3 separate regions of the Homo sapiens genome follow, and all the other regions are linked to region 1. The links come from fine-mapping of genetic effects on gene expression. A gene starts in region 1. Each other region holds a variant in brackets. All regions are shown on one strand. Distances are between the middles of the regions.

The links.
Region 2: its variant is fine-mapped to the expression of ACTR8 in monocytes after Pam3CSK4 (Quach 2016, PIP 0.95).
Region 3: its variant is fine-mapped to the expression of ACTR8 in CD4 T cells (BLUEPRINT, PIP 0.95).

Annotation. Positions count from the first base shown.
Region 1 is chr3:53,880,816-53,883,578 of GRCh38, forward strand. ACTR8 (actin related protein 8) reads right to left here and starts at 1,337. Exons shown (of 13, transcript NM_022899.5): 1 at 1,164-1,337. The coding sequence starts at 1,286. RefSeq lists silencers at 964-1,073, 1,464-1,553 and an enhancer at 1,224-1,303.
Region 2 is chr3:53,904,709-53,907,471 of GRCh38, forward strand. No RefSeq gene overlaps it. Among named protein-coding and RNA genes, the nearest start is that of SELENOK, 14 kb to the left of the region's middle. The variant C/T (reference allele first, on the strand shown) is at 1,121.
Region 3 is chr3:53,836,083-53,838,845 of GRCh38, forward strand. All of the region lies in intron 2 of CHDH (choline dehydrogenase), which reads right to left. Among named protein-coding and RNA genes, the nearest start is that of CHDH, 9.0 kb to the right of the region's middle. The variant C/T (reference allele first, on the strand shown) is at 1,465.

The DNA of each region.
Region 1 (2,763 bases):
AATCACCTTCAGGACTCTAAACAGATGTCACCTCACCTCCTTTGAAGAAACCCTCCCTGACTGTCGGGGATGGAGGAGGTACTTGCTTGAGTGCCCAATACTGCCCTCTGCACAAGCCCATTCCATGCCATGCTCTGATACCTGTTGTCCTATCTCCAAGTGTGACCTCTCTCCTCCTAATCACCCCCCACAGAGTGGGAGAATCCTAGAGGGAAGGATCTGGCAAGGCCCTTACAGACCATCCAGTCAGCCTTCTCAACTAGACAGATGGAGAAACCAGGCCTGTGCAACAGTAATGGCCACTCTGGGCTTACGGTGTGCCAGGCACTGTCATACTAGTGATAACTAACTAGTAGCTGCCCTACTAGTTAGGTATTATCCTTAACCCATCTACCGGTAAGGAAGCTGGATCAGAGATGTCCTACATGAATTTCTGAGCAGTTTATGCCTCATTTCTTCTGTGAATTGTACACTGCCTGTGCCCGTTTTCCTACGTGAATGCTGTTTTAGTTACTGATCAGTAAGGTTTTGTGTATGTGTATACATCTAAGGTCCTCTGCCAGGCACGCTACTGCAAATAATTTTTTCTGGTTAGTTTAGTTTGGTCTAATAGTGTTGTTTTTGATACACAAGCTCTTAATATATATTTAGACAAATGTCCACCATTTCCTTGCTTTTAAGCTTGAAATGACTTCCATTATCTGAGATTTCCTTAACAAAGGAAAAAGCCTGGACCCCAAACTATCCCTTAACAAGCACAGGCTGACGCTCCCAGTGAGCCAGCCTGGTCCTAAACTCTATCTGCCACCATTTAACCCTCACGGCAACTTGCGAGGCGGCTGGTTATCACCGTGGTCGTTTTATGGTCGGGGAAGCTGAGGCCAGAGCCCGGGCAGGAGCGCACACAACCAGACGGTGGGGCGTGCGGGAGATCGGAGCGGTGTCCCTGCGGGGGCTCCGCCTGGCTCCTGGCGCTCCGCACCTCCCAGCCCTCGGCGTCCCGGCGCGCCACCACCCGGAAAAGAACGACCGCTTCCGCACTCCCCCCACCAGGGGCTGGGGCCTGCAAGGGGGACTCGAAGCCTCCCGCCGCCTCCCGCCCCTTGCCTGGCAGCGGAGGACCCAAGCAAGGGCAAAGAGTTCCAACCCAGCCAGAGCCGCACCTCTTGCAGCGACTCCGGCACCAGCGCGGGCACGATGGGCCGCTTCACGCCGCGCTGCTCCTTCTCCTTCTCGCCGCCCTTCTCCTTTCCGTTCTCCGTATCACCCTTCTCAGCCTGGGTCATTATGGCCGGAGACACCCACCAACCTCTCGCCTCAGCGCTGCAGCCACGACTGCCGGGATGGAAGGGCCACCGCGCAGGCGCACGGCCGGCTGCCCACAGTCAAGATGGCCGCCGCGGAGTCGCCCCAGAGGGCTCCGAAAAGGCGGGGGTGGGGCTGCCCGGCGCAGGGGCTGGGGGCGGGGTGTGCATGCGGATTGATTGGGTGGGTGTTGCTGTGATTAGTCCTGACTGTGTAGATGCCAGCAACATAGTACACATAGCTTTTCGAGCGCCTAGTGGGGGTCGGCTGATAACCCGCATCTTATTTCGTCCTCACAGGCATCTCTTCTCCTGGCTTCCCAGATACCATATGTACTCTTAGTTTTTCTCATATGTCTTCATGTTCAGTCCAGCCTCTGATGTTGGGGTTAGGTCTTTTCCAGGCACACTCCTTGGGTGACTATCCAGTTTCCTGGCTTTAGCAATGAATACGATTCCCAAATATATATATCCAGGATGAACCGCTCAGAGAGATCCGTACTGATAACCAGTGCCTACTTGGTCTCTCCATCTGGATTGTCTACAAGGCACTGCAAACTTAAATATGTCCAAAATTTAACTCTTGATTCCCTCCCCTCTCACTTTCACCATCTCAGTAAATGTCATTTTGATTCTTCACTTGTTGACAGCTTCTACATCCAATCCATCAGTAAATCCTGCAGTCTCTAAAATAGATCTTGAATTCATCCACTTCTCCATTCCCATGCCACTACCTAGCCCAAGCCACTATCATCTCACCTGGATGACTACAACAGCCTCTTAACTCGAACTCCTTGTCCTGTCCCCCTATGATCTGTTCTTATATAGTTGCCCACGTTGTTTTAAAATATTACGTAGTTAATACTACTATGTACCCAGCACTCCACTAAGACTTACCTCAAAAATTAGATGTCACTCATGCTTTAAACTCTAATGGTTTCCCTTTGCTCAAAGAACAGAATCTAAACTAACCACCACCTAAAGACCATATCTAGTTATTGCTACATTTCTAAGTTCACCTCACAACACTCTCCCCATTCCTTGGCATTTCCAGCTACACCTGTTTTATCTTTCTCAGACATGCCAAGCCCTTCCCGTCATCGGGCTGTTGCACTTGCTGTTCATTTTGCCTTGGATGCTCTTCCCTCAGCTGTCTCATTCTCACGTCTGAACTCAAATGTCACCTCAGGCCTTCCGCAGTTATTCTCTCATCATCCTATTCCCTTTGAAGCATGAAGCATTAGTCTGTAATTATCATGCCTGCTCACTGTCTCCCACACTAGAATGTAAGCTCCGTGAGACTTTGCCAGTTATCTTCAGCACATGGTAGGTGCCCAATAAGCATGTGATGACTAAATACTAAATAAAGAACTCTTGGAGGTAAAAATTTAATCCCCGTTTTACAGGTGAGTGAAGTGGGATAAAATGGCATAATTCACTCAAGATCATAAGCTATTGA
Region 2 (2,763 bases), 24 kb after region 1:
ACAGTTGGGGTAGACAATAGGCTAAACAGAAAGCTTAAAAGGAAAACTGGGCAATGAGATATCCACAGGGCCTTTGAAAAGCCCTGACATATTCTTAGGAATCTACAAGGCCACCTGCATGAATAGGGCTGTGTACATGCTGAAGAAAAACTTGATATTACTTCTAGATGGTGAGATTAAAAAAATAATAAGCAAACTGAGTAGGTCCCAAGCTCTCACATCTGGCCAGTTTTGAGATGGAACAAGCAGGAAGTGAAGGATAAGGCAGAATTGCCAATTACCCAATTGAATGTTGAAGGCATGCCCCAACACACACCCAGATCCCTTCTGCAAAAAGTGGCAGACTTATTGGTTCCAGAGCTTTAAATCTCTGTCTAGTCATTAGCTGACTACTAAGCTAACTGAGCAGAGACATCAGTAGCTATATATGACAAAGAATACAGCCTTTACAGCATTGGTTTTAAAAAGTCACTAAACAACTTGGAGAAGGAAGAAGAATCTCATTTTCAGAATTGCCACATTATATTATTTAAAATGTCAATTTTTCAATAAAAAGTTATGAGATATGCAAAGAAGAATACATGGACCATAGAGAGGAAAATAAAAATAACTCCAATAGAAACTGTTCCCAAGGAAGCCTGGATGTTGGACTTAGTAGATAAAGATTTTAAGACTGGGCATGGTGGCTCATGCCTGTAATCCCAGAAATGTGGAAGGCCAAGGCAGGAGGATAACTTGGGCCCTGGAGTTCCAGTTTGAGACCAGCCTAAGCAATATAGTGAGATCCCATCTCTACAAAAAAAAATTTGTTTTAATTAGCTGGATGTGGTGGTATGTGCCTGTGGTCCCAGTTATTCAAGAGGCTAAGGTGGGAGGATCACTTGAGCCTGGGAGGTCAAGGCTGCAGTGAGCTGTGATTGTACCACTGCACTCCAGCCTGGATAACAGATTGAGACTCTGCCTCAAAAAAAAAAAAAAAAAAGAAAAAAAAGATTTATGGGCAAAGAAGCAAAGCAAAGCAAAGAAGCAAAGCAAGCAATGTCTAAAGAATGAAAAAGGCCAGACATGGTGGCTCATGTCTGTAATCCCAGCACTTTGGGAGGCTGAGGCAGGTGGATCA[C/T]GAGGTCAGGAGATTGAGACCATCTGGGCCAATATGGTGAAACCCTGTCTCTACTAAAAATACAAAAATTAGCTGGGTGTGGTGGTGCACACCTGTAATCCCAGCTACTTGGGAGGCTGAGGCAGGAGAATCACTTTAATTTGGGAGGTGGAGATTGCAGTGAGCTGAGATCACACCACCGTACTCCAGCCTGACGACAGAATGAGATGCTGTTTAAGAAAAAGAAAAAAAAGAAAAAAAAAAGAAAGAAAGTATGACTGATTGACTGATGTTTTGACAAATAGAAATATCAATAAAGAGATCAAATTTTGTTTAAGAAGAGAGAACCAAATAGAAATTCTAGAGTTGAAAATATAGAAACTGAAATAAAAATCCACTAGAGTGGCTCAACAGCAAACTTGAGCAGGCAGATGAAACAATCAGTGAACTTGATAGATTGAGATTATCCAATCTAAGGAACATAAAGAAAAAAGAATGAAGAAAAGTGAACAGTTTTTAGAGACCTGTAGGACACCATCAGTCATACAAACATATGCATAATGGGAGTCTCAAAAGAGAGGTGGGAAAGAGGGATAAAGAATATTTGAAGAAATAATGGCCAAAAACAGTTCAAGTTTGATGAAAAATATTTGTCTATGCACCCAAGACCTAAAATAACTCCAAATAAAATAAAACCAAAGAAATCCATACCTAGATACATGATAATCAAACTGTGTTGAATCTTTAAAGCAGCAAAAGAGAAGTGACTCATCACACACAAGGAATTCTAAATAAGATTAACACGTGATTTCTCACCAGAAATCACGGAGGCCAGAAGGCAGTGGGATGATATATTCAAAGTGCTGAGAGAAAAAGATTGTGAATCAAGAATTCCATATCTAGAAAAACTATCCTTCAAAAATGAATGAGAAAATAAGACATTCCTGTATAAACATATCCTGAGAGAATTCATTGCTTTAAAATCTGCCCTACAAAAAAATACTAAAGGGATTAATGCAGACTGAAATGAGAGGACAGTAAGCAATAACTCAAATCCACATGAAAAATAAAAAGCACTGGTGTGTTAGTTTCTGAGGGCTGCTGTAACAAATTACTACAAACTGGGTGGCTTAAAACAACAGAGATTTATTCTCTCACAGTTCTAGAGGCTAGAAATTCAAAATCTGGCAGGGACACATTTTTTCCAGGGCTCAAGGGAAGAACCCATTCCTTGCCTCTTCCAGTTTCTTATGGCTTGCCCAGAATTCCTGGGCTTATAGTTACATCAATCCAATCTCTGCCTTGTCTTCACATCACCCTTTCCTCTGCGTCTGTCTTCTCCTGTGTGTGTGTATTATAAGGACACTTGTTAGATTTAGGGCCCACCTGGATGATCTCATCTCAAAATCCTTAACTGTCTTACATCTTCAAAGATCTTTTGTTTTTTCTTTTTCAAATAAGGTAACATTTTCATAGGTTTTGGGGTTTGAGACATGGACATATTTGTAGGCGGCCACCATTTGCCCCTCTACAATCAGTAAAGGTAACTACATAGGTAAATAAAAAACACAGTGTAAGTATATTTTTGTAACTTTTTCCTCTTAACTAATTTAAAAGATAAGTGCATTAAACAATAATTATAAAATCTGTAATGATAGGCAAAC
Region 3 (2,763 bases), 45 kb before region 1:
CGTCTGAATACCCAGCCCTGTGGTGGGCTGAGGGGAGTGCAGTGCAGTGGCCCAGGGTGGGAAGGATCCCAGTTTGAGAATGAGACCTGGCTGGGCCCAGAGGCGGTGGTGGTCCAGGGAGTAACCCTGGGCAGCTGCTCCTCCTCTCTCAGGAATCTCATGCCACCCCCAACCCAGGCCTCCATCTCCCTAAGACAGTGGGACAAGCTTCCTCATGGCCCCCCAGGCCCTCTTGTCCTAAGCCCGACCAGGCCAGGCCCCGGCCTCTGTAGCCATCATCCCACTGTGAGCATCGCTCCCTGGGATCCAGGTGCATGGTCCACCTTCCCTTCCTCCCCAGGGCCTTTGCACATGCTGTTCTCTCCTCCAGGTACAGGTGCTAACCTCCTTTCACCTACTCACTCCTCACCTTCCCTCAGGCATGGATTGCCCTCCTCACCACTGACCACATCCATCCTGGGACTTCTCTGTGCCACTTACTGGGACCTCAACAGGCTAATAGTGAGATGAGCTGTGGAAAGCCCACATCCCTGGCTGAGGGCTCCACGCCCTTGCCTCCCACCATGTGCTGAGCTTGGCCTGAGGCTGGCGCTGCGTCATGCTGGCCAAGGGGACACATGCAGGGGATGAGGCTGCACGTGGCCTACAGCAAACCCAACCTGCGCAGTCTGAGATGTGGATGCTGAGCTCATACACCTGTGCCAGGACCAACAGAAGGCACCCCCTGGGAATGTTCTAGATCCAGACCTGGTGATGGTTACCCAGGCATACACACAGATCAAAACCAACATGATGGACACTTCGTATGTCTGTTGCACCTCAATTAAAATGTTTAAAACAATTTTTTGAAAGCATTTTCTGGGCTGAGGCAGGATTGCTTGATGCAGTTGAGGAGTTGAAGACCAGCCTGGGCAACATAGCAAAACCCAGAAATTTTTTCTAAAAAAAAACTTGTTTTTTAATTAGCCAGGCACGGTGGTGTGTACCTATAGTCCTAGCTACTCAGAAGGCTGAGGCAGGAGAATCACTTCAGCCCAGGAGTTCAAGGCTGCAGTGAGCTAGCACTGTTCCACTGTACTCCAGCATGGGCAATAGAGCAAGACCCTGTCTCTAAAAGAAAAAAAAAAAAGGGCATTTTCTTTAGTGTCAAGTTTCTCTTTCCAGGAATCTCATCTCCCACATATTGATACATAATTAACAACTGAATTGGAAACTGCTACCTGGGAGATGATTCTGGACAGTGTGGACGAGGCCATACCACTTGGCCCCTTGTGCCCTGGCTGCTCGGGCGTAGCCCACCTGCCCTCTGGATCCTCTTGGTAAAAAGGGGCAGATGGGACTGGGCTGAGGCTACAGGCTGCCAACAAAACCCGAGGTGGAGCCCTGAAGTCTGACATCGCATCAGAGCTCTGCCAGGCCGCACCGTGTGACCCAGGGCAGGGTTTCCTGTTGGTAAGGCGTGGG[C/T]GCTGGCCTCTGCGGGCACCTCCGATGCCTGTGGCTCCTCTGAAGTAAGTCTGCCCTCCTGCCTCCCCTCTGCTGCCCCACTGTGGGTGCTTCCTCAGCCTGGGAACCTTGTGCTCCACATTCCAGGCCTCTGCCCTCTGCACACATCCCTCCACTCTCTAGCTGCTTCACCACTTTCTAAAACCTTCACGGTGGTCTATACCAAAAGCAGAGTGTATGTAAGGTGGGAGGCCGGGCGCGGTGGCTCACATCTGTAATCCCAGCACTTTGGGAGGCTGAGGTGGGCAGATCACCTAAGGTCAGGAGTTCAAGACCAGCCTGGCCAACATGGCAAAACCTCATCTCTACTAAAAATACAAAAATTAGCCGGGTGTGGTGGCACACGCCTTGTAGTCCCAGCTACTCGAGGCTTAGGCAAAAGAATCGCTTGAACCTGGGAGGCACAGGTTGCCATGAGCCAAGATCGTATCACTGCACTCCAACCTGGGCGACAGAGTGAGACTCTGTCTCAAAAAAAAAAAAAAAAAAAAAAAAAAAAGAGACTGTAAGATTGGAAACCTGGAGTTCTAACACCCAGGCAAGGGTGGGGGGCCCAGGCCGCTCAACCTCCACGGATGGCTCCTCAGGGTAACCTACTATTTCTTCTCCCTTGCAGGCGTGTCTGTGGATCCAGTCTGTGCAGGTGCTGCGGGCGCCCAGCCATGGGTAGGAGGCAGGGTACAACAGAGGTCGCTGCTGGGGAGACCCGAATCCCTTAGGGGCCCCTCCCAGAGTCAAGCACCTGATAGACTAGGGGATGGGGGATACAGTGCCTCAGGCTGGCCCCTGAGGAAGACTGGCCACTGTGCTCCAGATGTGTACTCCCTGCACTCTGGGCTGCACTGTGCCTGGGTGAGTGGCATCTGCAGCACAGAGGGCCTCGGGTGAAAGTAGGGAGGTGGGTATGGGTAACCCGGAGCACAGCCAGAGGCAGACCGAGGGGATAGAAGGCGCTGGTGTCCCAGCTCTTATGCAGTCACATAGCAGCAAAAGAAAGACAACTGCTGTTCCCTCTCCAGGGGAGATGAAGGCTCTCCTCATGGGCAGGCTTCAGAGGCCAGGAGTTACCAAGCTCCCACCTGGCAGAGCCCATCATGGAGCTGCTCTTCCTGCCATGTGCATTCACTTACAGACAGCAGTGGGGGAGAGCTAGAAGCTCCCAGAGCCACGTACACAGCAGGCACTCAATAAACGCTTGTCATGTGACTGGTATATAAAAATGCACTATCCGGGGAGGAAAAGCAGACACAGAAGCAGAGG